Linked DNA regions of Homo sapiens: region 1 is linked to region 2. Evidence: fine-mapped expression QTL. A gene starts in region 2. The other region holds a variant in brackets. All regions are shown on one strand. Distances are between the middles of the regions. Region 1 has its middle 34 kb from the start of CARMAL. Region 2 holds the start of HAPLN3 (hyaluronan and proteoglycan link protein 3).

What was found. PIP is the estimated chance that this variant, and not a neighbour inherited with it, causes the effect. A credible set is the group of variants that fine-mapping cannot tell apart.
Region 1: its variant is the best candidate, but not a certain one, in a credible set for the expression of HAPLN3 in esophagus mucosa (GTEx, PIP 0.57).

The regions. Positions count from the first base shown.
Region 1 is chr15:89,005,952-89,008,856 of GRCh38, reverse strand. No RefSeq gene overlaps it. Among named protein-coding and RNA genes, the nearest start is that of CARMAL, 34 kb to the left of the region's middle. The variant A/C (reference allele first, on the strand shown) is at 1,186.
Region 2 is chr15:88,893,837-88,896,741 of GRCh38, reverse strand. HAPLN3 (hyaluronan and proteoglycan link protein 3) reads left to right here and starts at 1,198. Exons shown (of 5, transcript NM_178232.4): 1 at 1,198-1,283. RefSeq lists an enhancer at 1,361-1,972.

The DNA.
Region 1 (2,905 bases), 110 kb before region 2:
TAAAATAAATAATAAAATAAAATAAAATAAAATAAAATAACCTACGTGGTTCACGTTTCCACTGAGATGTGGGCTTTAGGAATTGAAAACCAATTGTAGGCTGTGTGTGGTGGCTCATGCCTGTAATCTCAACACTTTGGGAGGCCAAGACAGGCAGATCATCTGAAGTCAGGAGTTCCAGAGCGGCCTGACCAAAATGGTGAAACCCCGTCTCTACTAAGAACACAAAAATGAGCTGGGCATGGCGCACGCCTGTAATCCCAGCTACTCAGGAGGCTAAGGCAGGAGAATTTCTTTAACCCGGTAGGCAGAGGTTGCAGTGAGCCAAGATGGCGTCACTGCACTCTAGCCTGGGTGACAGAACGAGACTCTGTCTCAGACAAAAAAAAAAAAAAAAGAAAACCAACTGTAGTGGGCTGAATGGTGGCCCCCCAAAGGACATGTCCATGACCTAATCTCTGGAACCTGTGAATATGACCTTAGTTGGAAAAAGGTCTTTGCAGATATAATTATATCTTTGCAGATATAATTGATTTAAAATCTCAAGATGAGGAGATTATCCTAGATTAGCCAAGTGAAGCTTGAATACAGACAGTGACAACTGTCCTTATAAGAGACACACAGAGAAGATACAGAGAAGGGGAAAAAGCAGTGTGACCACAGAGGTAGAGATTACAGTGATGTGGCCACAAGCCAAAAAATGTCTGGAGCCACCAAAAGCTGAAAGAGGCAAGAAAGGATTCTTCCCCAGGACTTCAGAGGAAGAGCAGCCTGTCAAGACATTGATTTCAGACTTCTGGCCTCCAGAACTGTGAGAGAATAAATTGTATGTTGTTAGTTTAAGCCACTATGTTTGTGGTAATTTGTTACAACAGTCCTAGGAAACCAATACACCCATAAATATTGTTTATAATGTTAGGACAAAAAATTGTGATGAGTGGCCGGGTGCGGTTGCTCATGCCTGTAATCCCAGCACTTTGGGAGGCTGAGGAGGGCAGATCACTTGAGGTCAGGAGTTCGAGACCAGCCTGGCCAACATAGTGAAACCCCGCCTCTACTAAAAATACAAAAATTAGCTGGGCGTGGTGGCGTGCACCTGTAATCCCAGATACTTGGCAGGATGAGGCGGGAGAATCGCTTGAACCCAGGAAGCAGAGTTTGCAGTGAGTCAGATCGTGCCACTGC[A/C]CTCCAGCCTGGGTGACAGAGCAAGACTCTGTCTCAAAAAAAAGATCCATAAGGAATTAAATGTAATTATTTGCACTGCACTTGTGCTGCTTGAAGGAGACATTCTAAGAATCCAGGTGGAATGGCCACCCAGTTATCATACTTCATCTGTTTCTCAATATTAGCCTCTTTCAGATCAGCAATTGCTTTGGGGTGAGGAGGATTGACTGGGAAAGGACATGAGGAAAATTCTGGGGTGATGAAATATTCTTTGTCTTGATAGGGGTATATGTTAAATGAGGGTATTTCTATCTCAAAATAAATACAACATGAACCACAGATGTATTTTAAAATTTTCTAGTAGCCCCATTACAAAACAAAAAAGAAACAGATGAAATGAATGTTAATGCTATATTTTACTTACATTATTTGATAAAAATGGTTGGATGCTACTCTTAAAATCTGAGTATTTTTCCATGTGTACATTATACCTCAATTAAGAAAAATAGACTGGGTACAGTGGCTGACACTTGTAATCCTAACACTTTGGGAGGCTGAGGCGGGCAGATCGCTTGAGCCCAGGAGTTTGAGACCAGCTTGGGCAACATGGCAAAACCTTGTCTCTACAAAAAATACAAATATTAGCGGGGCATGGTGGCACATGCCATCAGCTACTTGGGAGGCTAAGGAGGGAGGATGGCTTGAGCCCTCGAGGTGAAGGCTGGAGTGAGCCGAGATTGCACCACTGCACTCCAGCCTAGGGAACACAGAGAAAACCTGTCTCGAAAAGAAAAGAAGATGGATCACGAGGTCAGGAGATCGAGACCATCCTGGCTAACACAGTGAAACCCCGCTTCTACTAAAAACACAAAAAATTAGCCAGGTGTGGTGGCGGGTGCCTATAGTCCCAGCTACTCGGGAGGCTGAGGCAGGAGAATGGCGTGAACCCGGGAGGCGGAGTTTGCAGCGAGCTGAGATCGTGCCATTGCACTCCAGCCTGGGTGACAGAGCAAGACTCTGTCTCAAAAAAAAAAAAAAAAAAAATATATATATATATATATAAATAAAAAAGAAAAGAGGAGAAAAGAAGGGAAAGAGAAAAGGCTTGCTTCACATATGGGCCACAACTTACATAACCTTTTGTTTTTCCTGGAGTTTTGTTTATTGCTTCTCTGGCTTTTTTACTGATGGAGAGACAAAGATCATCCTCTTTCATAAACATTATTTGTTGATTGGAATCCACTTTCTTCTTGAAATCATTTTTTAATGTAATTAAAAATTTGCTATTCTAACTGAACCACTAACTTTGCTGGTCTGTGGACAACTGTCATTCTGGGATTTTTTTTTTTCCACATTGTGCTCCTCAGTTAATTTCACTATTTCCTGTTTGTGAATTCGTTTTTTATTTTGCTGGAGTATGTCTTTGAACCTTTTTTTTCCCCAGAAAATGCACGCGGGTGTACATCTATAGCATCAAAACTCCCTGAGAACTTGGAAGGCGCTCTTTCAATATATATCTTAGACGTCTTCTAGAACCCAATATTGCCGATGACAAATTTGATGCTAGTTGCAGGTGACCTGTTTTCCTCACTCCAGAAACATGTAGAAAGCTTTTCATTATCCTTAGAGTGCTGCAGTATTACCAGGCTGTGTCTAGTTTTGTTTTTGGCTTTTCTTTGTCTTGCTTGACACTTGAACTCTTTCAATCTGAAGATTCATGTCTTTCTTCAACTTAGGGATT
Region 2 (2,905 bases):
TGTGTAACACACACACATGCACACACACACACACACTCATGGGCCAACTTGAGCTGTGTTTAGGAAGAGGCTCTGAGCTCTGTGACCCTGTGACCCTTCGACCCTTCCCCCAGCCAAAGCTGAAGGACCTCCTTAGTCTTTTCTGCTGAGGAAACATCGGGCTGTCCAGGCCAGGGCCCCCATTGGTCTGGACAGGAAAGAAAACACCCTGTCCAAACAGAGGCATCCTGAGCGGCTGCCTGGATGGCTGTGCTGATTAGCAGGATTCCGAAGGGAGGCCCACCCCTGTTGGAGGACCACTCAGAAGCCTGATTGCCCCTGCAGGCTGCAGAGGTATCCCACCCTGTGTCTCCCCTCCCAGCCAGGGCCACTCATTCAAGCCCCATGTGCTGGGGATAGCACCTGCTATGTGCCTGACAGTGAGTTGGGAATCTGGCCAGTGTTTCATGATGGCCAAACTCAGGGGCATGAGGACATCAGCAACCCCTTGCTTTTTTTTTTTTTTTTTTTTTGAGACGGAGTTTTGCTCTTGTTGCCCAGGCTGGAGCACAATGGCATGATCTCAGCTCACTGCAACCTCCGCCTCCTGGGTTCAAGCAATTCTCCTGCCTCAGCCTCCCAAGTAGCTGGGATTACAGGCATGCTCCACCACGCCCAGCTAATTTTGTATTTTTAGTAGGGACAGGGTTTCACCATGTTGCCCAGGCTGGTCTTGAACTCCTGACCTCAGGTGATCCACCGGCCTCCACCTCCCAAAGTGCTGGGGTTACAAGCATGAGCCACTCACTGCACCTGGCCTCACCCCCTTGCTTTCTATTTGGAAAAGAAAGTAATACAGAAGTCTCACCCCTTCCACAATCAAAGGTGGGGAGCAGCCTTAGCCCCTAGCAGAATGCTGGACAGGGGCTTCCCCTGCTTACTCCCACTGTTTTTGGTATACCAGGCTTTCTAAGGGGATCCCCCCTCCCCAAACTCTCCTATTCCACCCCTACTCTCCTTTCCCAAGACGTGAGGGCCTCAACTCTTGCACACCCTCTTTGCGGTGGTTCCCAGCGAGTCTGGAGACCGCTCAAGCCTGCAGCAGCTCCTCCCTTCGAGCCCAGCCCTTGGGAGGGAAAGGTGCGCGTGTTCCTTTAAGGGGCTGGTCTGGCGGGAGCGCGGGGGTTTTTCTGCTGCCGCTTCCTTTCTGCCCTTTTAATTTCCCCGAAATCAGACTGCTGCCTTGGACCGGGACAGCTCGCGGCCCCCGAGAGCTCTAGCCGTCGAGGAGCTGCCTGGGGACGGTACGTGGCTTAGGGGTCGCTGGGCTTCTGGGGCTGTGTGCGGGCCGGGTTCCTCCCTTACCGCTTTGGGTGCCCTGCGGGTCCCCACACCTCCCGGGCAGGGTCCGGGGAAGGGGCAGGAGGCGTGGGCCGGGCACTGCGGAGGCCCGGGCTGAGATGGGCTGTGATCGCGGGCGAGGGGCGCCCGGGGCACAAGTGGGGAGGGAGCGGCGCGGGGATGCGGGCGCCGGACCCTCGTGCCCACCGTGAGGGAGCAGAGCCCGAGCGGACCCCGTGGCCTCCGAGACCACCGTCCGCCTCCAGCCCCCTTCCTGCCAGGGTCCGCTTGGCTCTCTCCCCTGTCGTCTGTCCAGGGTCGGCTGCCTCCAGTGCCGTCCGCGGCGCCCCAGGCCCTGCCCCTGGGTATCTGTTGGATGCTCCGGGGGCCCCGGGAGTCCTGGGAGGGGCTGAGGGCAACCTGCGAGGCGGCTGGCGGACCTGCGCCTCTGGACCGCAGCTGGCCGGCTCTGGGCGCCTGGGGCAAAGGCAACTGATGCCTATGGGTTCCAGACCTCGCTCACCGGGGTTCTTGCCCCAGGGACAGCGAGGCCAGAAGGGTAGGGAGGGTGGAGGGCAGAGCCCTGGGTGGGAGATGGCGACCCTCAGGGAGAAACGTAGGCTTGTGCGCAGCCAGTATGGAAACAGCACGGCACTTGGACCCAGTCCTGCCACCAGCTCGTTGGCAGCCACAGGCCACAGGCAGCCTGTAAACCTGTTGGGACCTTGGTGTCCAGCGCTGACCCGCGGGAGTGCCTGTGCTCCCTGGAGTAGGGGGCAGCGATTGAGAGGGGCCCTGGCTTCTCTCCCTCGACGCCGCCCGGGCCAGCGGATTGGGAAACACCTCCGGTTTTCATTCTCCTGGGGGCTGCAGGTTTCAAAGGCGGAGATCAAGCCTTGTGCAAACAGGGACAGGGATGTCAAATTTCTCGCTGGGAGCAGCGCTCGTGCAGACCTCGCGGGCGATGCTGCCTCCTGCTGGTACCTGGGGGACTTGTACTCACGGAAGGCCCAGTGCGGACATGCACCTGGCAGGGAGGTGGCACCTACCCTCCCTCCAAGCCCAGGCTTATTGTTCTTGGGTGGAGGGGTCCCTAGGCTGGGGCGCCTGGGAAAAGCAAAGGGCTGGTCATCAGGAAACCTGAACTTTCTCTAAGTTCGAGATATTTGACAAAGATAACGCCTTGGGTAGTTCACTGACCTCCACTCTCTTGGCCTCAGTTTCCTCAACTGTGAAGAGGAGGCAGTGGTGACCACTTTGTCTCGTAGGCAGTGAGAGAGGAGAAAGAGCCACTGAGATGGTGTAAGACTTCACTGTGTGAACTGCTCACCAGAGTAGTAACAGGTCATATTTTCCCAGTGCTTGCTCCTTATCAAGCATCAAGCAGTATTTTCAGTGCTCTGCAGCTATTCTCTCCCTTAATCTTCACGAGAGTGTTTTCTGTTTGGTATTGTCGTGACCGCCCCCCCCACCCCAACTTTTTTTTTTTTTTTGAGATGGAGTCTCACTCTTCTTGCCCAGACTGGAGTGCAATGGCTCAATCTCGGCTCACTGCAACCTCCGCCTCCTGGGTTCAAGCGATTCT